Linked DNA regions of Homo sapiens. The protein of the gene in region 4 purifies or fractionates together with the protein of the main gene of each other region. This does not show direct contact. Each region holds a gene or a part of one and is shown on either strand. Other genes may lie near its edges.

What was found.
Region 1: the proteins of GPHN (region 4) and ROCK2 fractionate together in Homo sapiens (co-fractionation; one large-scale study listed by BioGRID). This does not show direct contact.
Region 2: the proteins of GPHN (region 4) and PPP4R1 fractionate together in Homo sapiens (co-fractionation; one large-scale study listed by BioGRID). This does not show direct contact.
Region 3: the proteins of GPHN (region 4) and PAAF1 fractionate together in Homo sapiens (co-fractionation; one large-scale study listed by BioGRID). This does not show direct contact.

What each region holds. Positions count from the first base shown.
Region 1 is NC_000002.12:11,191,678-11,199,712, reverse strand, and holds part of ROCK2 (rho-associated protein kinase 2), read left to right. Parts: intron 1-938; coding exon 939-1,032; intron 1,033-1,127; coding exon 1,128-1,222; intron 1,223-2,007; coding exon 2,008-2,187; intron 2,188-2,364; coding exon 2,365-2,533; intron 2,534-4,687; coding exon 4,688-4,758; intron 4,759-5,368; coding exon 5,369-5,457; intron 5,458-5,855; coding exon 5,856-5,934; intron 5,935-7,000; coding exon 7,001-7,262; intron 7,263-7,351; coding exon 7,352-7,565; intron 7,566-8,035. UniProt on the Homo sapiens protein: Protein kinase which is a key regulator of actin cytoskeleton and cell polarity.
Region 2 is NC_000018.10:9,581,223-9,589,257, reverse strand, and holds part of PPP4R1 (serine/threonine-protein phosphatase 4 regulatory subunit 1), read left to right. Parts: intron 1-404; coding exon 405-547; intron 548-1,022; coding exon 1,023-1,169; intron 1,170-4,429; coding exon 4,430-4,537; intron 4,538-4,677; coding exon 4,678-4,743; intron 4,744-5,982; coding exon 5,983-6,141; intron 6,142-8,035. UniProt on the Homo sapiens protein: Regulatory subunit of serine/threonine-protein phosphatase 4. May play a role in regulation of cell division in renal glomeruli. The PPP4C-PPP4R1 PP4 complex may play a role in dephosphorylation and regulation of HDAC3.
Region 3 is NC_000011.10:73,927,251-73,934,401, forward strand, and holds the end of PAAF1 (proteasomal ATPase-associated factor 1), read left to right. Parts: intron 1-34; coding exon 35-112; 3' UTR 113-3,864; downstream 3,865-7,151. UniProt on the Homo sapiens protein: Inhibits proteasome 26S assembly and proteolytic activity by impairing the association of the 19S regulatory complex with the 20S core.
Region 4 is NC_000014.9:67,107,404-67,115,438, reverse strand, and holds part of GPHN (gephyrin), read right to left. Parts: intron 7,066-8,035; exon of another isoform or gene 6,977-7,065; intron 5,300-6,976; coding exon 5,180-5,299; intron 3,579-5,179; coding exon 3,520-3,578; intron 2,422-3,519; coding exon 2,268-2,421; intron 1-2,267. UniProt on the Homo sapiens protein: Microtubule-associated protein involved in membrane protein-cytoskeleton interactions. It is thought to anchor the inhibitory glycine receptor (GLYR) to subsynaptic microtubules.

The DNA.
Region 1 (8,035 bases), on a different chromosome or scaffold from region 4:
TTGTATCAGCAATTTAATGCCTTAATATGCTATTGAGTGAAAACAATTACAGAAAGATAAATTCAGTAAGATAGAAAATCGCAGCCTGGCATGGTGGCTCATGCCTGTAATTGCAGCACTTTTGGAGTTGAAGGTGGGAGTATTGCTTGAGCTCCAGGAGTTTGAGACCAGCCTAGGCAACATAGTGAGACCCTGTTTCTACCAAAAAAAAAAAAAAATTTTTTTTATCCAGGTGTGGTGGTTCATGCCTATAGTCCCAGCTAGCTACTCATGGGGGCTGAGGTGGGAGGATCCTTAGAGCCTTGGAGGCTGAGGCTACAGTGAGTGGTGATCGCACGCCATTGCACTCCAGCCTGGGCAACAGAGCTTGAGACCTTGTCTCCAAAAAGAGAGAAAAAAAAAAAAGAAAATCACATAAAGCCACACTGTGTATTGTTTCATGTGTATATAATGAAATACAGTCATGGGTGGAAAGGCAAAACACGTAATTTACAGTAAAACTTCCTTCAGGCCAGGTGTGTTGGCTTATGCCTGTAAGTAATCCCAGCACTTTGAGAGGCCTAGGCGGGCGATCACTCGAGGCCAGGAGTTTGAGACCAGCCTGACCAACATAGTGAAACCCCATCTCTACTAAAACTATAAAAATTAGCCAGGTGTGGTGGCGCATGCCTGTAATCCCAGCTACTAAGGAGGCTGAGGCAGGAGAATCACTTGAACCCAGGAGGCGGAGGTTGCAGTGAGCTGAGATTGCGCCACTGCACTCCTGGTTGACAGAGCAAGACTCACCTGGGTGACAGAGCAAGACTCTGTCTCAAAAAAAAAAAAAAAAGAAAAATAAGAGGTTTAACAATATTCTAGGATGTTTCTCATTTGAATCATTTTATAACATAAATTGTGTAAATTGGGATGTGATTATTTTTTCCTCTTTCATTTCTTAGCTTGAGGAAACTAATAGGACACTAACTAGTGATGTTGCCAATCTTGCAAATGAGAAAGAAGAATTAAATAACAAATTGAAAGATGTTCAAGAGCGTATGTATTAACAAAAAATGTTTATTTTTAATATACCTAATGTTTATCAGCTGCTGTAATTACCAATGTAATTTTAACTTTTTTCCATGTTTCAGAACTGTCAAGATTGAAAGATGAAGAAATAAGCGCAGCAGCTATTAAAGCACAGTTTGAGAAGCAGCTATTAACAGAAAGAACACTCAAAACTCAAGTATGTATAATAGAATCTAAATATGATTTTGAATTTTGTCTCAGTTTATCTCTTTTACATTTTACTTCTAGCATTACAAATTGGTAGCAGTAGTCATCGAATGTACCAATATTTGTGAAGTCACAATTACCTGATTTTTGCCAGGTTGAGAGAAGTTAGATTTGATTAATATTGTTAAATTCTATAGCAACTAAAATTTTTCTTAATATTTCCTTTTGGAATCACATTCTCTTTCAATTTATTGTTGTAATTTAATGTGTTTTTCTACTTTTAAGAACTGTTGGGATTGACCATTTGCTGACAACCTGAAAAGTGTCAGTTAGTTCACTCTCTGCCAACTCCTACAGTTGCATATGTACTGCATGAACAGGTGGGGTACTAGATACTCTTCACTGTTGTTGCACATAGAATATTTTATTAATTTGATGTCACTGCAAAATGTTCTTCCTCCAGAATAAAAGAAGAAAGGTCTGCCTATTAAAGTCTCTCTAGAACTAAAAAGTCAAAATGGTAGAAAGCAACATCAGATCAATTCTATAAATATTTAAATTATAATTCTCAGAAAACACGAGTAAAAATCTAATGGCTCATTGGATGGAGAAGGATGATGAGTAGTAAAGGAGGTGTATTATTTAAATATTATAGAAAGTGTTTCTTTGTAGCCCTGTATGTAGGGAAGGAGAGTATTTGTGATTGTATAACTTGTTGCTCTTGATGAGATACTGAGAAACCATAAACGTAATTTATTTTATTTATGTATTATATTTATTTTTACATTTTTTAAGGCTGTGAATAAGTTGGCTGAGATCATGAATCGAAAAGAACCTGTCAAGCGTGGTAATGACACAGATGTGCGGAGAAAAGAGAAGGAGAATAGAAAGCTACATATGGAGCTTAAATCTGAACGTGAGAAATTGACCCAGCAGATGATCAAGTATCAGAAAGAACTGAATGAAATGCAGGCAGTAAGAATACTTTTTGGACTCTAGACTGAAGACTTCTTTTTAAGAAGTAGAATTATTTTCATGTCTGTGTTTTACTGGTTATAGACCATTTCTATTTAATAATTATTATTGAACCAAGAAGCAAAATGTTGAGTTATGTTGCATCCAATTAACTTATTGTAATTAAATTTCTTATAGCAAATAGCTGAAGAGAGCCAGATTCGAATTGAACTGCAGATGACATTGGACAGTAAAGACAGTGACATTGAGCAGCTGCGGTCACAACTCCAAGCCTTGCATATTGGTCTGGATAGTTCCAGTATAGGCAGTGGACCAGGGGATGCTGAGGCAGATGATGGGTTTCCAGGTATGGATTTGTTTTCAGCACTAATATTTATCTTAAATATAAATCAGTTGATTGTTTTAAGTCTTGCGACTGACTGCTCTGAAGGAAAAATGTTTGTAATTTCTTTAAGGGAAAACCTACTCCTTGGAGTAAGGATTCAAGTAACATTTCAAACTTATTTTATTTATTGATTTTTTTTACAAAGTTTTTCATAAACATACAAAAGAAAAACTCCACATGTCTAGTTTTTAAATTATTATATTAGCTCTATTTTTAAGCTTTCGTTTCATTTTCTCTTCTTTCTGCATTCTTACTTCCTTTTATGTTGGGTGTTTAGTTCATATCACTCAGTCACACACTATGGAATCCATGTCATTCACCTACCAGCGTTCCTCTACTTCTCTCAATATTGCCACTAAGCCTTCCAGTTCTCACACGCTCCTTGACTCTGATTCTGACTCAGAAGAAGAATCTTTGCCTTACTTACCCATTTCATCGGAACCTAATGGTACAGGTGATATCCTGAAAATCTTCTCATCTTTGGAGTTTTTCCCACTACCCTTAATTTTAGTCCTTTTGAAGATTTTTTATGTAACATTAACTAATAACCACTAACTCTAATATGTTGTTGTAGACTCAGTTAAAAATAAACTGCTGCATGAATAAAGAATTTGTTTTTAAGGTATTTTCTCATGGCATTGCTGTTATAATTGATAGATGCCAACTTGCGAGAAATGGAGTAATACATTATATTGCTTAAGAGCGCATGGTTTCACTGCTTGTTTTAGCCATTTTCAACCAAGAAGAAATTCTTCCTGAAGTTTCATAACAAGAGTGGTGGTACAGAAAAAGTACTTCGACTGATTCAAAGGATATGCTTAAGGTTTTTACTGAGTACTTACTGACATTATCCTAGGCATATGTCCTTCATAAGAAACATGAAAGAATTTGGCCCGATCGTTACCCTGAAAGAGATTACAGTTTAAATGAAAACAGCAGAGAGTTCCGTCATTCAGAGTCAGAGGCAGCCCTGTGTGATCTTTCAAGACTGCAGTTTCCTCATCTAAATTAGGAAAATAATTCCTGTTCTGTGCGGTTTTTTTAGGATTAAAGAGAATTTGTGTAAAGCATCCAGCACGATTGATACATAATAGAAGTTAAATAAGTGATAGCTACTTTTACTATTAGAATAACTTCCCCAAATGCTATTTCACATATTTATTTCATTAAAAGACATTGATCAAATGTCATTAAAACAAATTCCGAGGATTCATACACATTCCTTAGTTGAATTACAATGTTACTGATTTTGATATTTTGGAATTTAGAAATCTTTTGATTATTTTGCTGCTTATTAACCAAATTTTATCTAAAATGTACGTAATTGGTCAGGTGTGGTGGCTCATGCCTATAATCCTAGCACTTTGAGAGGCTGAGGCAGACAGATCACCTGAGGTCAGGAGTTCGAGACTAGCCTGGCCAACATGGTGAAACCCCATCGCTACTAAAAATACAAGAAATAGCTGGGCGTGCTGGCGCGTGCCTGTAATCCCAGCTACCTGGGAAGCCAAGTTAGGAGAATCACTGGAACCCAGGATGCACAGCCTGCAGTGAGCCAAGATTACGCCACTACATTCCAGCCTGGGCGACAGAGCAAGACTCCATCTCAAAAAAAAGAAATAAAATAAAACAAAATTTACATTATTTTATTTTATTATAGTTATTCTAAAAGTCCATTTTCTCTGAACACGTAATTATTTAAAATATTTACTCCTTGAAAATGTGCACAATGTGGCCCTCTTCCAAAGGAAAAATAAAGGAGTCTAAGGCAGGTGTACCAGTGAGAATAGAGAGTTGCTGCTGCTGCCTTTTTTTTTTTTTTGGCAACTTTTCTCCTGAATTTTATAAATGCATGAATTTAATCAATGGAACATTTGACTTTATAAAAGTATAGACTATCTGTTTCCAATATGATATAACCTGGATTTTGTTTTGCATTGCATAACTTTTTACTACTGATCCTGTACTATTACTGTATCCTAGATGATGTATAGTGATAAATTCTAAAGGATATATTTTATTTGTTTTATAAATTTCATATTAAAATTTTATTAAGTTCTTTGTTATCTAAGGAGAATTGTTATCTTTAGCCTCACATGTTGTGCTTATTTGTAGAATCAAGATTAGAAGGATGGCTTTCATTGCCTGTACGAAACAACACTAAGAAATTTGGATGGGTTAAAAAGGTAATTGATACTTTGGAATATGAGCCTTTTGTTTTTGTTTTTGTTTTAACTCTAGTCATTTGGCTTTTGTAGTTGTAGGATATACATGACTGGTACCTTTAGACACATAGAACTTGTTTATACTTCAGGATTTGAAATGATATGATTTTATTTATCTTTGTAAAAAATTTTTGTCCTCATACCTTGTTAATAATAAGACAGATTTTATTGTTAGGAAATTGTTGATTTTGATACTTTTGCTGTTTTGTTGGGAAAAGAACTGTGAATATAGTAAAAAAGACCCACTTATTTATTTTCCTCTGTTACTATGATTATTGATGTTATTATGTTTATTTTTGAGAAGGTTACTAATGATGTTGGATCCCAAAGCTAAGTCCAAAAAAATTTGACTTTACTTCTCCCCACAGTTTGCTTATTTAAAATATCTATTAATATAAACAAAATTTATTGTTATTTTAAGGAAGACTGTCCTAAAGATATATTAAATACTTTTTAGTTACTTAGTATTTTATGATTTTTATTGCTAATATAGAATTTATTTTCAAAAAAATCAATAAATAAGGTATATAAAAACTTGAATTACTGATTTCTTTTCTCCCTGTTTTAACAGTATGTGATTGTAAGCAGTAAGAAGATTCTTTTCTATGACAGTGAACAAGATAAAGAACAATCCAATCCTTACATGGTTTTAGATATAGAGTAAGTGTTTTTGTTAGAATATTTAGAAACTATATCTTTTAAAGTATAAGAGACTAACAATGCAATTTATTAGTCTCATAGTATAGCTCCTACTGTAATATTGTTACATTTTCCTGTGATTTGCTTCATACAGATGAAAGTCTGGGATACAGGGTTAGTTAAAACATCTTTATTTCATGGGCCTTTGATACATTATTTTTTGAAACTAATTAGAAAATTTCTGACATAGAGGTTTCTAAAAATCTTAATTAATTATAGAATTAATAGAACAAAATATTCTGAGTTCCTAACATGGGTCAAAGTAGTCAGTGTTTAACGTCTGATGTAAGTATAGAATAATTAATATATAATTTGATCCTTGGGTGATATTTTATTCCTTTATTCAAAATTTTTTATAGCAAGTTATTTCATGTCCGACCAGTTACACAGACAGATGTGTATAGAGCAGATGCTAAAGAAATTCCAAGGATATTCCAGGTAAACATAGTTTTGTTTATATTTGGTTGGTTGGCTTTGTTTTGTTTTTTTCACATTTAGAAGTTCTCAAGTGACATGACATGTTAAATCTCTTCATTCTTTGACCCTCTTCAGGTTACCTTTATGTTTCAGTCCTATTTAAAGATGGTTTGTTGCTTTGTGACTTTTGTGCTTAATTCTGTTTGGGAACGTTTTCATTCCTTTCTCCATTTTATTTGTTAAAGCTTGCGGTGTGTTTGTATCATGTTTCTGGTCTTTGCTATATTTTTGTTTAAGGTTGGTTATGACTTTTTTTTAAACATGAATTTTTCCCTTTCTGTTTTTGTTTAATCTCAGCTCTCTAGAAAGTTAGAAAAGTCAGTTATGGAGGTAAATTTTGTACCTTGTAGCCCTTTTACCTCCGATTTAAAGTGAAGCCACATTCTTCCCTTTACTACTTCCATTTTAAAATTAGTCAAACCAACAATGACTTACTGATTTCCTTCTATGTAAGAGTCGTTGTGCTTGGTGTACTGTGTGGAAGTTGGCTCCTTGTTTTCTGGATGCTTGTCATGTTTATTTGGAGTTTAATACACATCCTTTCCTCTTTCTTTTCTCTCTCAACTCTCAAAATATAGGACTTTTAAAATGAAGCTGTGCTCATAGCTGTTACCCAGTTTTCTGTTAAGTATTACAAAACACCAATTAGTGTGATTGCCACATTTCTTCAAGTGATTATTTTGAACAGTCTCTCCCAGAAAAACTTCCTAACACCTATGAAGTTACCTTTTGCTGACCTATTCTGATAGTGCTGCTAAAGCATGGGTGTTATAAAGAAAATAAGGAGGCAGCATTTGAACAGGATCAGTTCTTTTGAAATGCAAACCAAAGTGACTGTCTGATGACTTTTCTTATATAAGCTCTTGATTAAGTTTGCGTAATCAAGAGCTTAAGTTTGTACTTCAGATACATTTTCTTCTCTTTGAATAATTTAGGCTAATTTTATTTTACTTACACTATCAGAATTGTTCCTACATAAAAAAATAGCATGTTTGGAAATCACTTATTGTTCTTTTGGCATTCATAGATTCTGTATGCCAATGAAGGAGAAAGTAAGAAGGAACAAGAATTTCCAGTGGAGCCAGTTGGAGAAAAATCTAATTATATTTGCCACAAGGGACATGAGTTTATTCCTACTCTTTATCATTTCCCAACCAACTGTGAGGCTTGTATGAAGCCCCTGTGGCACATGTTTAAGCCTCCTCCTGCTTTGGAGTGCCGCCGTTGCCATATTAAGTGTCATAAAGATCATATGGACAAAAAGGAGGAGATTATAGCACCTTGCAAAGGTAAATGATAAATTACTTGCTCCATCGATATTGGTTATGTTCAGATCATTTTAAGCACATTAATTTTTTTTTCTAATTTTTCTTTATAGTATATTATGATATTTCAACGGCAAAGAATCTGTTATTACTAGCAAATTCTACAGAAGAGCAGCAGAAGTGGGTTAGTCGGTTGGTGAAAAAGATACCTAAAAAGCCCCCAGCTCCAGACCCTTTTGCCCGATCATCTCCTAGAACTTCAATGAAGATACAGCAAAACCAGTCTATTAGACGGCCAAGTCGACAGCTTGCCCCAAACAAACCTAGGTAATAAACTAAAATGTGGTAAGGAAAAAAAAAAAGTCTATTAAAATATTTTGCTATTTATGTTCAAACTACAAATTTTCCTAATTAGTTTTCCTTTGCTTTGTATTTTAGTTAACTATGGAATACCAAATGTTGGAACTGTCTTAATGTGCATGTCATGTTCATCGATTCAGATGAAAGTAATATAAACTTACTTACTAAATCACACACATACAGTAAATTCAACCAAAAATCTTTAAAGATTTTTGTTATGTTTATTTGTACAATAAATCCTCACTTAACATTGTCCATAGGTTCTTAGAACTTACAACTTTAAGCAAAATAATGGCTGGTCCTGGAATTAAGTTGTTTCCTTCAAAATTGTTCTGTTATAACCTTGATGAGAAGAAAATGGTTTTGTTATACTTCATTTAGCTTAAAGTCATACTTTCCAAGAACCTGTCGATGATGTCCAGTGAGGACTTACTGTA
Region 2 (8,035 bases), on a different chromosome or scaffold from region 4:
AGTTTTTATGACTTGTCCTAGTAGGTTCTTAAATAGTGGAATTTATGGATAATACTATGTATGTGTCAGAGTATTGATGTAAATATCAGATAGGATATTTAACCCCTAGCACAGTGTGGCACAGTGTAGGTGATGAATAAATTTATTTATTGTTAAGAAATGGTTAGATACTCAGTGCATACTGTGAACAACAGAAGCTTGGATTGAAGATAAGGTCCTCCTTTCACTCATGGGATTGATCTGTGTATGATTCTGAAAAGGAATGCAGAATTAAAGGATGTTGTCTCAAGTCCTTTATATTTTGAAGATGAAAGTCCATAGCCTTCCTAAGTACCCTCAAGAACAGATAAAGGTTTTGTTGCTGCAGGAGAACATGTTTGCTCACATTGCCGTTATTTCAATAGAACCAACTGTGAGAGCGGAGCTGATGGAACAGGTGCCTCACATCGCACTGTTTTGTCAAGAAAACCGGCCTTCAATACCATATGCTTTTTCAAAATTCTTACTACCTATTGTGGTTAGATACCTTGCAGATCAGAATAATCAGGTAAGAGTACCATTTATATGTTCTTAAAAGAAATTTACGTAGTGTAATATATGGAGAATAGCCGAGCCTAAGTGTTCTCTTTGGAATGTTTTACTGTTTTTCAAAAATGAATATTTATCTTAGACAAGATGTGTTTAGAGTCTGACAAATCTAGTAGATCCCTTTAATGCCATTATGGACAATGCCTAGTAACTGCACTCTCACTTGGTAACCTCCTAGCGGTCCCTTAAAAGGTTTGTTACTTTGTGAGGCATCTTTTACCAGGATGGCTCTGTCCACTTCCTCTGTTACAGCACAATCTACGAAGTTCTGTAGTCTTTGTAATAGTTGAAGAAAATAAACACAAATATTTATTTGCGGAGTTTTGCCAGTTATGGGTCCCTTTGAGATGAGAAATCTTTGTTTATAAAAATCAAGTGATAGAATTTTGTCATGTTGCATATGTACTTTCTTTGTGTTGTTATTTTTCTCCTAGGTGAGGAAAACAAGTCAGGCAGCTTTGCTGGCTCTGTTGGAGCAGGAGCTCATTGAACGATTTGATGTGGAGACCAAAGTGTGCCCTGTCCTCATAGAGCTGACAGCCCCAGATAGCAATGATGATGTGAAAACAGAAGCTGTGGCTGTAAGTCAAATGCCATTTTTCCACTTATGCAAAATGTGGCTGATAAGAGGTGCTTATTAAAAGTCAGGCCGGGGTTAGGCACGGTGGCTCATGCCTGTAATTCCAGCACTTTGGGAGGCCGAGGTGGGTGGATCACTTGAGGTCAGGAGTTGGAGACCAGCCTGGGCAATATGGTGACACCTGGCTCTGCCAAAAAAATACAAAAATTAGCCAGGCATGGTGGTGTGCGCCTGTAGTCCCTGTTACTTGGGAGGCTGAGGCAGGAGAATCACTTGAACCTGGGAGGAGGTGGAGGTTGTAGTGAGCCAAGATCAGGCCACTGCACTTCAGCCTGGGCGACAGAGCAAGACTCCGCCTCAAGGAAAAAAAAAAAAATTAGGCTGGGCTGGGTGCAGTGGCTCATGCCTGTAATCCCAGCACTTTGGGAGGCCAAGGTGGGAGGATCACTTGAGACCAGGGGTTTGAGATCAGCCTGGCCAACATGGCAAAACCCCATCTCTACTAAAAATACAAAAAAAATTAGCCAGGTGTGGTGGCACATGCTTGTAATCCCAGCTACTCTGGAGGCTGAGGCACGAGAATCATTTGAACCTGGGAGACAGAGGTTACAGTGAGCCGAGGTCATTCCACTGCATTCCAGCCAGGTTGACAGAACAAGACTCTGTCTTAAAAAAACAAAACAAAAAAAAAAAAAGAAAGAAAGAAAGAAAGAAAAGGCTGCTTTCTGTTAAAGTTGCCACAAATCATTAAATTTGAAATACAATCAGGGCTAGAAAGGGACATAAAGGCTTACAAAGGAAAGTGTACCTTCTGCACACAATACGAAAAAATACATAATTGTAAATTATTATGTCAAAGTGGAAAACTGAAATGGTTATTTTATCAGTGCAGTTAAAATTTTAAAAACCCTGGACTGAACGAAGAAACACTTGAACCCCTTCAGTAGGTATTGAACACTTTTCTAGGCACTGTGTAAGCACAGTGGAAATAAAATAATACTTTGCTCCTGCTCTGACAGGTATGGTCTTTGTGGGAAGGATGGTCAGGCAAGTACATTTCCCAGGATATATGACATCAGTGATGGTTATCAGAAGAATATACAGATTGTTAAGTCATTACGCACATCATAAAGTCAAATGTAATAGGAAGTTTCTGGGTTTTTTTTTGACATGGTTTGCAAATATTCTGATTACTTGAAGGCCATGATAGGGCATGAATTAGTATAGAGTAGTATCTGTTGTGATTCACATCTGGTTCCTGAGTTCGGATAGTAGTAATTCTCATGGTAAATTAGAAAAGTGATAAATTCGTCTGGAAATTTATTCATATCTATTTGGATAGTAAGAGTTCACTCCTTAAGCCTAAAATAATATGGTTGCGTCTTTGTTGATATTTTTTAATAATCACACTATATTTAGTGCTTCTGGATCATCAGTAATGGGATGAATTAGATGATCTCTCTAGTCTCTTTCCCTTGAAGAATTTCTTGAATCTATTATTTTTAGATACTCAGTTACCAGTTAATAATAAATTTACTTTTTCAGTAATGTTTTTACTGAAGTGAACCTTACATGACATAAAATCATTTTAGTGTTAGTGGCATTTAATATGTTCACAAAGTTGTATAACCACCACTTCTTCCTAGTTCCAAAACATCATTATTTCTTTTTTCACTTTAGGATTTTTGCAATGAAGGAAATCAGTTTTGGGCTTGGCCTAATTTTTGGTTTATATTGAGCCGTTTAACTTGCTGTATTATAATTCTCGATGCAATGTAAAATTAGTAAAACATTACAATAAAAAATTTAAAAACTATATCCAGTGCTAGTAGGAGTCTTATGATTCTCTTACAGTTGTGTTTGTTTTTTGGTCATGTTTTATATTCCATGGCTCCCATATTTTCTCTATCTTAATAGATAGAGAAATAATAATTATTTCTTAATAAAAATTAATTTCTTAATAAAAATAATTCATTTTTAAATAAATTTAGTTATGCTACATCAGTGATATACAGCATAACTTTGGATTGTTAACTAGAGCATGGAGATGCTTATTCAAAAAACAAAACTGGTTTTGGGATTTAGGAGATGTAGGCGTTATCTCTAGTTCTGATGATGGTGGGATTTTCATGGGGATAGTGTTGAATCTGTAGATCAATTTGGAGACAATTGCCAGTTTCACAGTCTATGAACATGGTAGATCTATTTATTTAGGTCTTTGATTTATATCTTTAATCTTTTGTAGTTTTCAGCAGAAAGTTCTTGTGTGTATTTTGTTCGATTTCATATTTTTTAAAAGTACTTCTGTGAGTGATACTGTTCTTAAATGTTTCCAGTTCATTGTTCATTGCTAATTTGTAGAAATACAATAGATTTTTATATTCTAATTTATAGCCTACAACCTTCCTAAACATACTTATTCTGGTGGCTTCTTTGTAGATTCCTTCTGATTTTCTGTGTAGACAACCATGTCGTATTTGAATAGAGAGAATTTTCTTTCTTTGCAATCTGTATCTCTTTTACTTCTTTATTTTGTCCTGTTTGTACAGTCTAGCAATTGATACAATTGATAAATGACAACAGGCTATCCCATTTCTTTCTGTATTAACTGTGGGAACAATGTATCTAAATAGAGGGCCAGTTTTCAAATAAAGTTAATCCTCACTTTGCCTCCTATTGTGTTAACTGAAACATGCCTATATCAGAACTGTGTTCATGCTTTCCCTGGAACTGAAGCTTTGCAAAACCAGGACATGGTTCTGATATGTATGAGCTTTAGTTCACAGGGTGCTTTGCAAGGCGAGGACTGAATTTTTTCTTAGCAATACAGATATGCTAAATCTAGATCTTTCCTGGGGATAGTTTTCCCTTTGAACAGTCACCAATTTTTTAAATTGGGAAAATGTAGGTTTTTGTTTGTTTGTTTGTTTTGCTTTTAAAATTACCAGGCAAAATGATGAAGTAGTAGTAAGATGGAAACTGTGGACAAAAATGAAATTGTTAGGATTTTCTGTGGGTTTACTGGGCATGCAGTATTTATTGGTTGTTTTTATTGATTGTGGTTAATATCTGTCTTTGTTTCCTACTTAGATAAATAAGATGAAATTAATAATTGGCTATGAATGTTTTCTGTCATGTATATAGTATAATGATGCCATATCATATTTTATGTTTCCTCAAATTATATACTTTTATTATTTAATTTAACTGAAAGAGGCTTACTTGATATTTTCAGTGTGTGTTTGTTCTTACTTATTTTAGATAATGTGCAAAATGGCTCCCATGGTTGGGAAGGATATTACAGAGCGTCTTATCCTCCCTAGGTTTTGTGAGATGTGCTGCGATTGCAGAATGTTTCACGTTCGAAAGGTATTTTTTTGTCGTTTTTTTTCTGCTGTTTAAGAACATAGTTCTAGTGGTTAATGTACTGATACATGATATTTAAAAGATTATCTTAGAAGAACCTTATGTGTAATATTTTGAAATGTCAATGATGCTTTTGTTGTCAGGTCTGTGCTGCCAATTTTGGAGATATTTGCAGTGTAGTTGGCCAGCAAGCTACTGAAGAAATGTTGGTAAGTATTGCAGATATAAAGGAGTAAACAGTGTGTGTTACAAAGTAGTACATAAAGTTTGAAATGCACACATTTACTCCAAAGTTTTATTAACACAATTCCATGAATATAAACCAGAAAGATAATTTTGAATTTAGGAGTTTAAATATCTGTAATCTGGGCATTTGAATTATCTTTTTGATATTTATTAAAAATATGGATATGTTTCAGAACCATTGATCTGTTTTCACCTCTTCCATTTCTGTTAAGCAAATCAATTCTTACTTATTCAATTGAACCTTTAATTTTATTGCAACCCTCAAGAATGTTGATGACATATTAAATCTATAGCAAGTTAGTTTTAAATAGTACACAAGATGCCTATACTTGATGTATAAGTCACCATATCTAAAGAGTTTCTGAAGCCATCTCTTATGCAAAATAATTAAGTTCAGGGGCAAGCTCTTGTAAAACATTTAAGCTATGATTGTTGGGAGTGCTTTTGCATAGCCAGAAATATTGCATAAGACAATCCAGTATGCTTTTGCATAGCCAGAAATCCGACGGACCAAATTATCAGCACTTTTTATTAATTTATCAGTGATCTTTCATGTTGGGTAGGGTTTTGATTATCACTTTTGTGAAATAATACATTTCTGTCCGTTTTAAAGCAAACATAATTTTGACTCATAAGAAATAACTTAAAATTTAAGATATATTATTATATGTTATATATTTATAATTTAAGATACATTATTTTTTATACTTTTAGGAATAGACAGTAAATTAGATGTGATTTATTGAAAATTGTTGAGTATAAATACTAATAGATCCTACTTTTTAAGACAATCCAACATTTAAAACACTGAGGCTGGGCGTGGTGGCTCACACCTGTAATCCTAGCACTTTGGGAGGCCAAGGCAGGTGGATCACCTGAGGTCAGGAGTTCGAGACCAGCCTGGCCAACATGGTGAACCCTCATTTCTACTAAAAATACAAAAATTAGCTGGGCGTGGTGGCACACGTCTGTAATCCCAGCTACTTGGGAGGCTGAGGCAGGAGAATTGCTGGAACCCAGGAGGTGGAGTTTGCAGTGAGCCAAGATCGCACCACCTCACTCCAGCCTGGGCAAAAGAGTGAGACTCTGTCTCAAAACAAACAAACAAACAAAAGAAGCGTGAAAGCAGAAAATGAAAGCGAAGTAACTGATGAAATCTGCTATCTTTATCCAACTAACAAGACTCTTTCCTTTTCACATAGCTGCCCAGATTTTTCCAGCTTTGTTCTGATAATGTATGGGGAGTCCGAAAGGCTTGTGCTGAATGCTTCATGGCGGTTTCATGTGCAACATGTCAAGAAATCCGACGGACCAAATTATCAGCACTTTTTATTAATTTGATCAGTGATCCTTCACGTTGGGTAGGGTTTTGATTATCACTTTTGTAAAATAATACATTTGTGTCCGTTTTAAAGCAAACATAATTTTGACCTCATAAGAAATAACTTATAATTTAAGATATATTATTTTTTATACTTTTAGGAATAGACAGTAGAAAGACTACTATATTAACAGTTTGTGTGTTTTTTTGTAACAGGACAAAAATTTCTTTACACATTTAAGTCCTGTTGATTTTTATTTAATTGGCATGATGTATTATGTTAATTTTTAGATGTTAAACCACTTGCATCTTTGGAATAAGTCCCACTTGGTCATAGTTGTATAATTCTTTTTATATGTCGCTGGATTCAGTTTGTCAGTATTTTGTTGAGGGTTTTTGTGTCCATATCATGAGAGATAATAGTCTGTAGTTTTCTTATGGTGCCTTTGTCTGGTTTGTTGTCAGAGTAATAATGGCCTCATAAAATGAGTTAGGAAATGTTCCCTCCTCTACTGTTTTTGGGGAGAGTTTTTGAAGAATTGTTATTGATTATCTCTTAAATGTTTGGTTGAGTTCAGTGGTGAAGCCGTCTGGGCCTGGGCTTTTCTTTGTAGATAGTTGTAAAATTCCTAATTCTGTCTCTTCACTTGTTATAGGTCTGTTGTGTGTTTTTTTCTTGAGTCAGTTTTCATAGTTTGTATCTTTCTAGGAATTTGTACATTTCATCTAAGTTACTTAATTTGTTGGTATATGATTATACATAGGATTCCTTTATAATCTTTTAATTTCTGTAATGTCAGTAGTAATGCCTCTTCTTTCATTTCCTATTTGAGTAATTTGAGTCTTGTCTCTGTTTCTTGGCCAGTCTGCTAAAGGTTTGTCAGCTTCGTTGATCTTTTTACAGAACCAACTTTTGGTTTCATTGGTTTTCTCTATTTTTCTATTATTCATTAATTTCCATTTTAATCTTTATTCTCCCTTCTGCTTGCTTTTAGTTTATTTTGCTTCTTTTTCCAGTGTCTTTAGGCAGAAGGTTAGGTTGTGGATTAGAGGTCTTCCTTCCTTCTTTGAATTATCATCTGGGGTAAATGGCTTTCAACCCGAAAAACTTTATTTAGTATTTCTTGTTAATGTGGTTCTGCGAACAACAAATTCTGTTTTCATTTATCTGTGAATGTCCTTATTTCACCTTCAATTTTGAAAGACAGCTTTACTTAATGTGAGATTGAGTGTGTTATGCCACTGCCTCAGACCTCTTCTGTTTCTACTGTGAAGTCAGCGGTTAATCATATTGGGGTTCCCTTGTAAGTGATGTGTCATTTTTCGCTTGTTGCTTTCTAGATTTTTCTCCTTGCCTTTGACTTTCAGAATTTTTACTGTGATGTGTCCGTATGTGCACCTCTTTTAGTTTATACTACTTGGAGTTGAGTTGATTGAACTTCCTAGTTATGTAAGTTACGTTTTTCAATACGTTTGAAAAGTTTTGAGCCAATGTTTCTTCAAATATTTTTCCTTCTCTCTTCTCTCCCTCTAATATTCCCATTATGTATATGTTAAATGTGCTTAATGATGGCCCACATTTCTTTGAGGCCCTTTTCATTTTTCCTCAATTTTTTCCCCCTCTCTATTCTTTGGCTTGCATAATCTCTATTGATCTATCTTCAATAGAACAATTATTTGTTCTGCCAGTTCAGATCTACTGTTGAGCTCATGTACTGACTTTATTTTAGTCATTGCACTTTTCAGCTGTAGAATTCCATCTGGTTCTTTTTTGTAATTTCTCTTTATTGATGTTATACTCTAGTTGATGCAGCACCGTCCCCATAACTCCCATTACTTCTGTAATCATCATTTCCTTTGGTTCTGTGAACATGTTTATAATAGCTACTTTGAAGTCTTTTTTTAAGTCTGAAATCTGATTGCTCTCACAATCA
Region 3 (7,151 bases), on a different chromosome or scaffold from region 4:
GGCTTCCTTTGAACTGTGAATTCTTGTGTTTTAGGTAGCCACATGGGAGAAGCAGATCTACACATGCTGTCGAGACGGTCTTGTACGACGCTACCAGCTTTCTGACCTCTGACTTCTTGGAAAGAGCAGTCCCGGTTAGTGAAAAGGTTTGACCCTGATCAACAATGAGCAGAAACATCATCAGTCCTTCCCAAGGACCATGGCGTTTAATGTCTTGGGCACCCCTTGGAAATCACAGAAAGTCAGCTGTACTGGCCGTGTGGAACTCTCATCCCAAGACCTACTTTGAACTGAGTAAGAAGGTCATTGTGCCCACTGCATTTGTTCCAACTTCTCCTTGTATAAACTCACCCCAGCAACACAGGGCAAGGATATAGATGCTTTTAGTTTGTTCTTAAACCAGTTTTGTTAAATGTTTACAAGGACCTCAGTACTAAAGCCTGTTCTCTGGAGGAAATAAAGAAAATATGTTTGGAGGTGCCTGAATATGAAGAACTTTGTTAAATACTCTTACTCCAGCAAAAAGTTGGTCAGGACGATGGAATTCCTTCCTCAGCACTCCCTGTTGCCTGGCCATAGAGAAGGCCTGCTTGGCAGTAGCAATAAATGTCCTGTAAGCTGCCACCTGGGAGAGATTCTTATGCAGGTGGTAACCAACTGTCCCAGTTTGCTTGGAACTAAGGGGTTTTCTGTGACTTGAAACTTTCAATGCCAAAACTGGGGCAGTCTCAAACCAACATGATTGGTCAGCCTATATGTAGGTGAGGAAACTGAATCATAAGCATTGTAAAGGCATTGGCTGTCAAAGTGTGGTTCTTAGAACAGCAGCATCAGTATCACCTGGGAACTTGACAGGAAATAGAAATTGTTAGGCCCAATCCTAGACCTAAATCAGAAATTCTACGGGTGCAGCCAGCAGTCTGTATTTTAACAAGCATTCCAGGTGATTCTGATGTATGCTAAAGCTTGAGAGCCACTGATCTAGAGGAAGAGATGGTGGAGGGCACTTTAGTCACAGCTGGAACCCAGGGCTCAAAATGACAAGATCGGTCTGTAGGAGATGAGGCCACAGAGGTTGGCAGAGCCCAAATAGTGAAGGAGCACGAATGTTAGCTAAGGAGCTCAGACTTTACGTGGTTGGCAGTGGGGAACCACTGAAGGGTTTTAAGCAAGAGAATGGCATGGTCACCTCCTTTTTTCTCTAAACATAAAAATGGAATCATAATGTATGTATTCCATGGCTTATTTTCACTTAATGTCTCTGAGATTTTCCATCTCAGTACATGTAGACGTTCCTCATTCTTTTTTAACAATGTCCAGAATATGGATACCATATTATTTATATTTTTGAGATTATTAGAGAAAAGTTTCTTGAAAGATGTAACACTTGAGCTGGGACATGCAGATTAAGATTTTTATTTATTTAACGGAGGAAGGTCATTTCTGGCTGGGGTAATAATGTTGTTGACAGAGTTCTTTTTTTTGTTTTTTTTGAGACGGAGTCTCGCTCTGTCACCCAGACTGGTGCGATCTTGGCTCACTGCAACCTCCACCTCTCAGGTTCAAACGATTCTCCTGCCTCAGCCTCCCTAGTAGCTGGGACTGCAGGCATGCACCACCATGCCCGGCTAATATTTTTTTTGTATTTTTATTAGAGATGGGGTTTCACCATGTTGGCCAGGCTGGTCTCGAACTCCTGACCTTGTGATCCACCTGCCTTGGCCTCCCAAAGTGCTGGGATTACAGGTGTGAGCCACCGTACCCGGCCGGCCACCAGAGTTTTTAAAGGCGTATTCTCATGTAAATTTTTTTTTTTTAAAGACAGGGTCTTGCTCTGTTGCCCAGGCTGGAATGCGTTGGCATGATTACAGCTTCTGCCTTAACCTCCTGGGCTCAAGCAATCCTCCCACTTCAGCCTCCCAAGTAGCTGAAACCATGGGTGCACACCACCACACTCGGCTAATTTTTTAAATTTTTTGTAGAGACAGAGTCTCACCATGTTGCCCAGGCTGGTCTCAAACTCCTGAACTCAAGTATTCCTCCCACCTTGGCCTCTCATAGTGCTGGCATTACAGGCATGAGCCACGGCACTCAACCAGGAACTTTGTCTTAACTTTAAATCCCATTTTTTTCTACAACACCCTGTTACTTAAACCAAAGTGTAAAAAGAAAATACTGCAATTCATTTAATATCTACTCTGTTCTAGATACTATATTTATATATCTAATTCTTACAAGACTCAAAAAGCGAATGTTATTATTTGTTTTATTCCGATAAGGAAACTGAGACTCAATACATTAAATACCAGAGGCTTCATTTGGACCTTGGACAGCACCTTCTGCTGCACTGTGTAATCACAGGCAGGTAGCAAGAGACTTTTGTGACTAGAGCAATTTCATTTCAAGGTGCAGTTTGTGACAGGGTCAGGTAGACCAGAATGGACATATTCCAGAACTTAGAAACATTAAATCCTAGGAGCTCCAGGTGGAACATCTAAGAAGTCAGATTAAGAAAACAGGATGAGGCTGGGCATGGTGGCTCACGCCTATAATCCCAGCACTTTGGGAGGCCAAGACGGGTGGATCACCTGAGGTCAGGAGTTCGAGACCAGCCTGACCAACATGGAGAAACCCCGTCTCTACTAAAAATACAGAATTAGCCGGGCATGATGGCGCATGTCTGTAATCCCAGCTACTTGGGAGGCTGAGGCAGGAGAATCACTTGATCCCGGGAGGCAGAGGTTGTGGTGGGCTGAGATTGCGCCATTGCGCTCCAGCCTGGGCAACAAGAGTGAAACTCCGTCTCAAAAAAAAAAAAAAAGAAAACAGGATGAAATGGGCCGGGCGCAGTGGCTCACGCCTGTAATCCCAGCACTTTGGGAGGCCGAGGCGGGCGGATCACAAGGTAAGGAGATTGAGACCATCCTGGCTAACACAGTGAAACCCTGTCTACAAAAAATACAAAAAAATTTAGCCAGGCATGGTGGCAGGCACCTATAGTCCCAGCTACTTGGGAGGCTGAGGCAGGAGAATGGTGTGAACCTGGCAGGCAGAGCTTGCAGTAAGCTGAGATCGGGCCACAGCACTCCAGCCTGGGCGACAGAGCGAGGCTCTATCTCAAGAAAAAAAAAAAGAAAAAAAGAAAACAGGAAGAAATGTTGTCATTTATTTGTAGAATCTGAAACATTTGAACTCATAGAAGCAGTGAGTGGAAGAACCAGCGTGGTGGCTCACGCCTGTAATCCCAGCACTTTGGGAGGCTGGGGTGGGTGGATCGCTGGAGCCCAGGAATTGGAGACCAGCCTGCACAACATGAGGAAACTCTGTCTCTACTAAAAATACAAAACTTAGCCAGGTGTGGTGGTGGGCACCTGTAATACCAGCTACTAAGGAGACTGAGGCAGGAGAATTGCTTGAACCCAGGAGGTGGAGGGTGTAGTGAGCTGAGATTGCACCACTGCACTCCAGCTTGGGCAACAGAGCGAGACTCTCTCTCAAAAAAGAAAAAAAAAATATGTATATATATATGTATATATATATATTTATATATGTAGAAGCAGTGAGTAGAATGGTGGTTACAGAGACTCGGGGAGGAGGAATGGGGAAATGATGGTCATAGGGTGCAAAGTCTCAGGAGGAATATATTGTGTTTTGAGATCTATTGCATAGCATGGTAGATTGCTAAGAGTAAATTTCAAATGTTCTCAACCCAAAAAATGTTAAGCATTTGAGGTGATGGATATGTTAACTGGCTTCATTTAATTATTCCATATTGTATTTATAAGTCACAATAGGACTTTGTGGCCCATAATTATAAACAAGTATAAATTGTCCATTTACAATTAAAAATCAATTAAAAGAAAAGAGGATAAGGAGGGATATGGCTGAGTACACACAACACGTGAATGTCTGTGAGTTCTCATTCCAGGGCTCACTCTTCTACATTGCCACCACATTCGTCCGCTCCTTTTCATACGTCTCCAGAGTCGATGTCCTGGTTGTGATATATGCAGTGACCCTTGACAGCTGCTCTGAAATCCAGACCCAAACAGAAGGAAAGGAGACCAGCTCTCAGGTGCTCCATAGCCTTGTCCACTGTGAAAGGAAGGAGCCCCTGCTTTTAGCAGACAAAGCTTTTTCTTTTTTTTCTTTAGGATTAAGGAGTGCATTCTGGGTAAGGAACGGTAGGACACCGACAGCTCTACAGACTCAGTGAACTTCTGTGCTAGATGGTGTTTCTTGGCTTTGGGATGCCCCCTTGTGACTTCTTATGAGAAATAACCTTTCTCTCCAGACCTGAAAAGCTGGCAGCAGCAGCAGCAGCTATTCAGCATGTACTTGGTACCAGGCACAGGCCTCACAATAGGTAGATTTCTTTTCTAAACAATACTCTTTGTGCATATACTTTATGTTCTTTTTCTATTTTAACTTTTATTTTGCCAATAACCTTAAACTTGCAGAAAAATTGCAAAAATAGTACAAAGGATAGGAAACAAACATGAGAAATATTTAAAAATAATAAAAAGAATAAAAAAGAATAGCATCAAGGATTTCAGTACACCCTCACCCGAATCTCCCAGTTGTTGAATTTTTTTTTTTTTTGAGACAGAGTCTCACTCTGTCGCCCAGGCTGGAGTGAAGTGGTGCGATCTTGGCTCACTGCAACCTCTGCCTCCCGGGTTCAAGCAATTCTCCTGCCCAGTCTCCTGAGTAGCTGGGATTACAAGGGTGCACCACCACACCTGGCTGATTTTTGTATTTTTAATAGAGACAGGGTTTCACCGTGTTGGCCAGGTTGGTCTCAAACTCCTGACGTCAAATGATCCGCCCGCCTCAGACTCCCAAAGTGCTGGGATGACAGGCGTGAGCCACCGTGCCCAGCCCAGTTGTCAACTTTTTATTATGTTTGCTTTATCACTCTCTTTCTGTATATATGTACACAGGTTATATATGCTATATTTTTTCTGACTCATTTGAGAGTAATATGTAAATGTTACATTCTATTACTTTATTACCATTTGTGATGGTAAATTTTATGTGTCAGCTTGACTGGCCATGGTGCCCAGATGGTTGGTCAATTTTCTGGATGTTTCTTTCAAGGTATTTTTTTTTTTATGAGATGAACATTTAAAATCAGTGAATTTTGGGGCCAGGCAAGCTACTCAAGTCCAGCTACTCAAGAGGCTGAAGTAGGAGGATCGATTGGGCCCAGAAGGTTGAGGCTTCAGTGAGCCATGATCATACCACTGAGCTCCAGCCTAGGCAACAGAGCAATACCATGTCTCAAAAAATAAATGAATAAACTAAAATCAGGGGATTTTGAGTAAAGCAGATTACCCTCCATAGTGTGATAGTGTGAGTCGGCCACATCCAATCAGTTGAAGACCTTAATAGAACAAAGACTGTTGTCCCCCAAGCAAGAAGTTCTGTCAACAGACTGCCTTTGGACTCAGACTGCAGTTCTTCCCTGAGTCTCCAGACCATCAGCCTACTCTATCAGTTTCTGGATTTGCCAAGCTTCCTGTGAGCCAATTCCTTAAATGTCTCTCTCTCTTTCTATGTATATATACACATACACACACGTATCTATATGAAAACAGAACGTACACATCTTATTTGTCCGCCTTCTCTGGAGAGACCTGACATATGTCATTGTATGGATATACCGCATTTTGTTTATCCATTCGTCAGTTGATGAATGGGCTGACATTTGGGCTGTTTCCACTTTTTAGCTACTATGAAATACACTGCTAGCAGCATTCATGTGCAAGTTCTTGCGTTAACATATGCCTTCAGTTCTATTTGGTATATACCTAACAGTGGAATTGCTGGGTCATATGGTACCTATATTTAACTTTTTGAGGGGCTGCCAACTGTTTTCTAAAGTGGCTGTAACCATTTTACATCCTCTCTAGCAGTGTACGAGGGTTCTCATTTTTCCATGTCCTTGTTTTTTATTTATTTTATTTTTTTCTGAGACGGAGTTTCGCTCTTGTTGCCCAGGCTGGAGTGCAATGGCGTGATCTTGGCTCACTGCAATCTCCACCTCCTGGGTTCAGGCGATTCTCCTGCCTCAGCCTCCTGAGTAGCTGGGATTACAGGCATGTGCCACGACGCCTGGCTAATTTTTGCATTTTTAGTAGAGACAGGGTTTCACCATGTTAGTGAAGTGAACTCCTGACCTCAGGTGATCCACCTGCCCCAGCCTCCCAAAGTGCTGGAATTACAGGCGTGAGCCACCGCGCCCAGCCATGTCCTTGTTTTTTTCCATTTTTAAAGTTATAGTCTGTTGATGTTAAGGTGGTTAAAATGGTGTCTTCCAAGTTTCTCCACAGAAAATTAATAAGCATTTTGTGGGGAGCTACTTTGAAACTATATAAATATCCTGTTCCCATGAAACTTGCGTCAACTAGTTTTAGCATTCTTAGATGATTCTTGTCTGAATGAGTTATTCCCATGCTATTAATAATTGCCAAAGGGTGACTTTCTTATTCCATCATTCTTTCTATATTTATAATTAGCATTCTACCATAAGTTAGAACTTTCCCTTCTACCCCATTTATTTATTTAGTCATTTGCTTGTTTGTTCATTCGTAGATATATCAGTGTGGACTACTCATGGATTCATATTCTATGATTACAACTCATTCTTACTTTTATTTACTTTGATGTTAAAATTGTTCCAGTTTGGCCAGTGGACACTCCTTCAAGCTGGATCCTGTGTCCTTTTGACACGTTCCCATCATTCTCTGAGCACTTCCATATTTTCTGGTACCACAAGATGTTCCAGCCTCACCTTGTATTTTTCCAGCCCCATCCCTAGAACCAGTCACTTGTGTATGCGGCCTTGGTTCCATTTAGTAGATAATGGTATTCAGAAACCAAGATCCGGGCGCTAGTATACTTTGTTACTGGAGTGTTCCTGCTTCGGGGCCCTATCGGGGACAGTACATGAATGGCCCTTTCCACATCCATCGTTCTATAGTAAAAAGCATGAGTTCACACTGATGTCTCCAATTCCAGCCCACCTCCACAGGTTTTATTTTAGCCTTCCACGTATATACTTCCTTTCTTCAACAGTGAGGAACTTGCCTCTCATAATCCTCAATACCTCTCATAATCCACAGTACCTCTGTGAGTAACCAACCTGC
Region 4 (8,035 bases):
TATCAAAGGAAACTAAAACCAATACTTAAGGAAAGTTTGTACTGTGACTGGGTAAATTATGGCCTTGCTACATTAAGTGCAATTTCTTTTGCCCTCTCTGAAAATAGGTAATTTTTTTTTTGCTATTGTTTTCTAGGTATCTGAGAATTTCAAGCCTTCTGGAGAGATAATATGCTTTATTTATCTCTTTTTTTTTTATCACCAATTTCCAGTAAAGTGCCTGGCACAGAGGTACCCAATTATCTGCTGAACAAAACTAAACTATATGATCATAGAGTCATAATAAAAACTAACTTTGAATAAGAGAAAGGGAGGAATGTTGAGCTATATGGAACCAGAGATAATATAATTTAGAAGCATTATTCTCTTGGAAAACTGTGGTATAGTTTAGTATAGCAGGTCTGTTAAAGTAGGGGAATAAGTCATGTAGAATTAGTCAAAGCTTCTTCAAGAGTAATAAGCTCTGTGGGGGCAGGGAACTAAGACTACAAACTCTTCCCTAGATTTCATGATATAATACCATCTCTATTCTCACCCCATTACCTTAGCCTACTTCCAGTAAATAGTTTTAATTGAGTGTAAAAGGTAGCTTAAACAAAACACTAACAATATACTCTGTGGATAATTGAGAGGATGAGTCCAGACCTACAAAAGCATGAGAGAGAAATATAAGCAATATCGCTTAAACAGAGTTTCCTATTAACTAAATAGTTATTATGAGTGTGTTAATTCTTATTTTACTTTATTGTGAGATAGGGTCTCACTCTGTCACCCAGGCTAAAGTGCAGTAGTGCCATCATAGCTCACTGCAGCCTTGAATTCTTGAGCTCAAGTGATCCTCCCACCTCAGCCTCCTCAGTAGCTAGGACTATAGGCATGTGCTACCATGCATAGCTATTTTTAATTTTTTAGTAGAGGCAGGGTCCCGCTATGTTGCCCAGGCTGGTTTTGAACTCCTAGCCTCAATTGATCCCCCTGCTTCAGCCTCCCTAAATGCTGGGATTACAGGAATAAGCCACCATGCCTGGTCCATGAGTGTGCTACTGTTTAGCTTTCTCAAACTCCATGAACTTACTTGTTGCACAAAGCATGTAAGTATATCATAAAAAAGAATAGTTCACTGAGTCAACCAGTTTAACAAAAATTTATTTCTGATGCTATATATAGTGTTATTTGGTTCTAAGGATATTAAAATCATTACTATGTAGATCAAATTGAAAAGAATGTTTTTTGTCAATCAATAGTTTTTGGAAATGACTAGTGCATATATACTGGGAAGTAAGCACATCTGGAATGTTGATTTAGCTATCTATTTGCAAAATAAAACAGTCTATTCTTTTGCTTTAACCAAAAGGACTATAATGTCATAAAAAGACCTCTGAAAATTTTCATTTCCAAGACTTCAAGAAATTAAAAATAATGATGGGTTTATTTTCAGAACAAAGAGATTTTTAAAAAATCCCGCTAATCTTTTCTTTAATAGTAAGGTCAAAGGAATTATTAATACTTTTAAAAATCTCAATAGTTTCTGATTCTTTTATAAGGTTTTGAGTTTCCAGCAGATTCACTTTTTAGTATTCTCCATTTGACCTTGGAGCTTCTGACTGAAGTTTTGCACAACCTAAGCAAAACAAGCAATAGGAAGTTTTTCAAGAGTTCTCAGAAAGAGATGGACTAAATTCTCTTTTCTAAATCAGGAATGAAAAGACATTTTGACCCATTCTAAATATCATGCCACTAGAGATGCTATCTTTAGGGAGAGAGAGAGGAAAAAAAAAACCTGATTATCAAATCCCTCTTAGTGATTAAAGATCAAATGGAACTTTTCACAAGAAGTGCTAGCCATGATGTCCTGATTCATTGATACTTCCCACACAGAAGTAGCTCATCATTTCAGCAGCAGGATGGGCACAATTCATTGTCTAAACAGAAACAGTACTGAGTTTGTATAGTTTAATATCTATAGCTAGCAGCTAAAGTTTTTTGCTTATGTGTACTGACTTTGTGGAAAGGCCATTGGTTATAATATTTCATTCTAATAGAAGAGAACATTTCATAATACATAATTTTTACTAGTTCTTCTTTGTTCTCATATTCTGAACTTGAAACTATCCTAAAGCCAATTTATTGTTTCCCTGTTATAAGAATGTGGATCCACTGGTATGATCTATAATCTACAACATTCTATTTACAACACAGAACATATGTCAGAAATACCTTTATCTTATGGGCCCTCTCCCCACTCCCTCCATTTTTATTTTTAATACCTCATTCCCTGTTGACATGACTGCAACCACTGGAAACTTATTAACTTCAACCTCTGTGACACCTACAGTTGCCAGAAGACCAATCTCTGAGGGGCCCATGTGGGTTCCTTTGGCCAAAACACATTCCCCTCTTTTAATGTCATGGCCGATGGGTCTGAAAGTCAAAGCAGAACCATAAGCAGTGTGATTAGAGAACAACATTTTCTCAACTCAGAGGGAAACTTTAGTGTCAAAAAAGGACATTCAAGAAGACAAAAAAGTCTAGAAATAAAGTAGTAGGAAAACAATGAATTGAAGGGATTCTAAAAATCCTATGCTTTTTTAATTTTAAAAGTTAAATCACACAACAGAAAACAGAAATAGGATTTGAATGTATTACTGCTAAAGAAAAACATGTTACTTCATATTTGAAATTTTTTTTCATGAGTACCTGTGAATAAAATTACTTTACAAATTGTTTTATGTTACATTATAGTAAAAATACCAATTGTAAACTTTCTTTGATAAGGCAAGAATTTGTATGGCAATATCTAGCGGCATTAATGATAAGAGGTCCACAGCTGGCTAGCTTTGTCAAGGAGAATAATGCTAATGAGGCTACAGTCATAGAGGTAATTTCCATATGGACCACTTAGGTTGGTCCTGATCTGTGGCTACTGAGGTACATTAACCTTGGTGTGCTGCCATAGGGATGGGAGAAGTGTAGCTTCGTTACAAAGGGATGTTCAGCAAATTAGTATTAATGGAATCAGGGTAAACATATTCCATTTTAAGAAAAATAATTTAAGGTATATGCACTATTTATCATAGCAAATAGCCTCATCTTTGTATATAACAAGGAACAGATTATTCCATTATTATTGGTAGTCACTAGAGCATATGCTATTAGTTAATTGTGTAAATACCCAATTCTGGTATTATCTGAGTTGATACCAAATTCCAGATTATTTAGGGATGGGATTGGGTAATTCTGGATTATCTAGAAGTAGAATTAACTGTAGAATATGTAGGCTCATGACTTTACCTCTTTCTCATCTTGCTTTTGACTAACTCGCCTTTACCATCTTCATTAAAAAGTAGGCAGGGCAGATATGTGATACAGAATTCATAACATTCATTTTGCTTTTTGTTAAAGCCCTGAAAATTAATGGCTAACTGACATGGCTGCAGATTTATAGTAGCCAGGGTTTCCTGAGTAAATGATCATGTAGAAACAAAAGTAGGCTATATATTCTATGTGTTTTGAAGTTACCTGATATCTTGGCCTGGCCGAGCTTGCACCAGAATTCGCACTTCAAGTTCTTCAGTGCCCTATAATAACAGCCGGTCATGTAATTTCAAACAGAATTTCTGAGCAGTAGAATTTAGTTACTCCGATACTTTTACCATCAGATAGGCCCAGGATATATACAAATATAGACAAAAAGAAAACTATTTGCTACACCCTTTGAAAACACTGAATTTCTAACACAGGTTCCTGAAAAATTAGAAGGTTTGGTGCCAATAAATAAAAAATTTTTTTCTCCAATTTTTATGCTTTTAAAAAATGTACCAATTCAAATATTAAATCTTGTTTATAAGATTTAATATTTGAACTAATACATTATATAGAATTTGTTTATATATTTTTATATACATATGTAGGTGGCTACCCTAATAAAGTGAACGTGTGTGGAGGTAATATCTTCCTTCTTTTCCCATGAATCATGGGTTCAATACCATGCCAAGGTTACCAAATACTTGCAGAAATTTCAGTAAAGGACTTATAGTTTGCCTGGTAGTAGATTTCTGTCCATTAATTGCAGTAATCAATTTTACATTTATGGGCTGTGAATAATATTGTGACATTGGAACTGTGTCTTGTCATCTGGCAGAGTCTGTGGATGTATGTGTTCTGGAATTCAGTGCTTTGCTGGCTTCCCTGATGCCAATAAATCTGCTTAGGCAGTTTTAACAGCAGGCAATGTGATCTGTTTGCCAAGGGTTGAATTTTATAAGCCTTACATATGGAAAGGTGATTAAAAAGAAAATCTCCAGATCAGGGAAAGTGTCTGTCTCTTGGCATGGCCAATTTTACTATCTACTCGGCTTGGGAGAATATATGTTTATTTTTCACCTCAGCTTTAAAATATATCTTTACTTTCTTCATAAAACAAGTAAGAGAGCTGATTATTAAAACCTCAGTTGAATCTATTCTACTTTTATTACTGGCTTATACTCTGGTTTCAATAACCTGCCACTATTTTCAGTGAGATAAAGGCTTGCTTAGGTCCAAAAAGATTCCAGCATCTTTTACTTGAGGCAATGGAGGGAGAACTGACATACACTTAATATTTCCAGGCTGTCATTTGGTGGCACAGCTTTTTCCAGACTTACAGAAAACCAGAGGTGAAAGGGTCATTTGGTTCAAATGCTTGGCTTAGTGTAATATTCAAGAACTTGCCCAAGTGCTCTTTGTTAAATTCTTCTCTAGTAAATTCTGATTTCATGAACTCCTTGACATTTTATCAGAAGCTAGTCTCAATGGCAAATTTCTCAGCTGGAAGGTATGTCAACCATTAATATCTCTGCTCTGGAAGGTATGTCAACCATTAATATCTCTGCATTTCTTTCTTGAGGTACTTTCTTTCGTTGTTTGCATGTGAAACTGCTTGGGTCAAATATGATTCAAATTCTGCTATAACAGCAATGATCATAGAAACCCCTCCTGTAACAACAGATTTTCAAGATTAAGGAAATTTCTTATTTACTGGAGACTCATATACTACAATATAAGATCCCACCATAAGCAAAAACAAAACAAAACTAAACAACCCAAAAAACTGGGTTAATCTCACAAACACTGCAGAAAATGGTTGTGACATAATACTGCCATAGGAACAACAGCACAGTAAGACTTGGTGATGACGTACATCATCTGATTCCCTGATAAGTTCGGTATCTTCCACTTGTACTACTGCATCAGCACCGCAGGGTATTGGAGCACCTGTTGTAACCCGCATGACTTGTCCTGGCATTACTGTCTGAGTTGGCTGGAAATAAAGATGAAAAAGACAGTTGATGTACTTTGCTGCTGCAAAGGAAAAGTCTGCAGAGGATGTTAATTTTTTTAATATTAAAAAATAAACCATAAAAGAAAGTCTTACAGTCTTATTCATTTTGGGCCAGTGTAATAAAAGCTATCCACAAACAGGTGCACTCACACTAAAGGGGCTTTAGGTTCATTTAAGCTGATTTTATGTGTACTTTAAGGTAATGACTATTCGGTGTCTTGGTGCTCTGCTTTACTTTTGAAGAACTGCCATTTACATTTGCCACTTTTGCCTCTCAAATAATGTACATTTTCCTAATATATGTAAAGTGATTTGAGAGTCTGTAAGTAAAAAAATTGCTAGGACATACATTGTGAATAACAATTACAAAAAAAAATCTTCATAACTTATTGAAGTTCTAATGTTTGAGAAATGCAGTACTTTATTAACTAAACTTTTTGGTTAAATAAAGGCAAGCCAGAAATATTTTAATTATTGCCTTTGAAAATATTCTAAAACACATTAGCTCACCTATCAATTAATAATAGAGGTTGAGCAAATATAATTAAATCATTTAAAAATGATTCCAGTGTCTGTAATGACCTAGGTTAAACATTACTTTTGAAAATGAAAAACAAGATTTTCATTGTTTGTGCTCTCATATTGATGGTATAAGAGACAGAACCTTCCCTGCTAACTTCTTACAACATGAGGAAAAGCATTTTTCTGTAAGATTCATCTGATAGATTTGATCTGATAGAGAAGTGATCTGAAAGTCACTTGTCAGGGGCAATGATTTAGACTGGAGTTTGGAAAATGAATGCTTCAAATTCTCCCTAAGAAAAAATCCTGAGACAATATTAATCCCCCCTGCCAAAAGATTCCTTTCTAAAGATGTCTGCCTCATAAGTATAGTCACGTGCTGCATAAGGATAGTTTGCTCAATGTTGGACTGCATATATGATGGTGGTCCTATAAGATTACCATATTTTCTACTGTACTTTTTGTTTTGATAAACAAATACCATTATAATTGCTTACGTATTCAGTAATACTGTAATATGCTGTGCAGGTTTGTAGCCTCGGAGCTACAGGTCACACCATGTAGGCTAGGTGTGTAGTGGGCTACTCATGCAGGTTTGTGTAAGTACACTCTATGATGGTCGGACAACAAGAAAATTGCCCAACAACATATTTCTCAGAATATATCTTCATTAAGTAACTCATGACTCTATTTAAAATCTTAAGTCCCTACAATGTGAATATATTTACCACTACTGAACTATAAGCTTAAAAACTGTCAAGATGGTATATTTAATGTTATGTGTGTGTATGTTTTGTCATTGTTGTTATTTTAACCACCAAAATAAGACAAAGTAAAATAAACCACACACACACACACACACACACACACACACACACACACACCCCTTAGGGAATGGTTAAGAAAAAAAAATACCTTACTACTGAAAGTACAATCAAAGTAAAACAGGAAATTTATTACAAAAGTCTTAAAAATCTTCTCTCCATAATATTATTACTGTAAGCAATACTACCAATAACTAATATTTATTGAACCCACAATCTATGCTAGGTACAATGTTAAGTGCATTATATATTACAGAATATAAGCCTTACAAAGACAAAGATTTGTTTCATTTTCTGTTTGCCTCTCCAGATCACATCATCATTCTCTACTCTGTGCTGTGGTCCAGAAGCTGACCTCTATGGACTATTTTAACCAGTTTCCCACCACTTTGGCGTCTGGTGAGACTCAGCCAAAGGGAGGGGTCAGTAAGAGATGTAGAGGGTAGGAGAGAGACAGAAAAGTAGAGTTTTCATTCCCCTTGCTCTTTTCCTCCTGGGCTGCAGTTTGGTGATGGTTAGGGCATCTCTCCTACTGAGAGCAAGAGCTGCTGTTGGGCAGTCCTCTCCCACAGATATGAATCTTCCCAGGTTCAGGTACCATTGTCTTTCTTTGCTCCTTCAGACTAAGATGTGGTAAGGAAATCTCACTGTTGCTAGCTCCTGGGTGCTGCAGATTCCTTTATTGGTTTCCCTTAACTCCATCCAGACATTGGAGATAGTTTCTAATCTTCTTTAATCATCCTTTTTCCAGACATATTGCTCTGTTATGGCAAGGCTTAGAAAGTATGTTGCACACACTTTGCCAAGCTGAGCACCTACGCATCCCAGGCTGAGCTGATGTAGTCACTCATGTCCTAGGGAAACAGAGTGCTGATTGAGCCAAGATATCCTGACCTACAGGCCAAATAACTCTAGTACCCTGCTTCTCTGGAGCTAGACTATAGCCCCTTAGAGTCTGAGCTGCTGAGATACCCCCCTCTCTGGGGAGTTGAGTCATTTCTGTGTTGATCCTTGGCCCCCCCGGGGATCAAACCACAGCTGCGCTCTGCCATTCTAAGGTATCTGCTGCTTCTGCACCTGGCCTCAGAGTCTGAAGTGAGGACCTGCGTAGCCCCACCATCCAGGGGTCTAGGGTCACTACTACACAGTACCTTATCCACTGTGACCCGAGCTGCTGCTGAGCCCTACTGGCTCTGGTTCCTGAGCTGCGGCCATACCCTGCTCCCCTGGCCAAAACCTTTTTCTTTGGAGTTTGGTCAGTACTACACCCTACCCATGAGGTATAAAATCACAGGTACAACCAGGGCACCTGGGTCCAAGCTGCTAGGGGGTGCCTCAGTCATAAACCTTGGTTCTTTGGATAACCTAC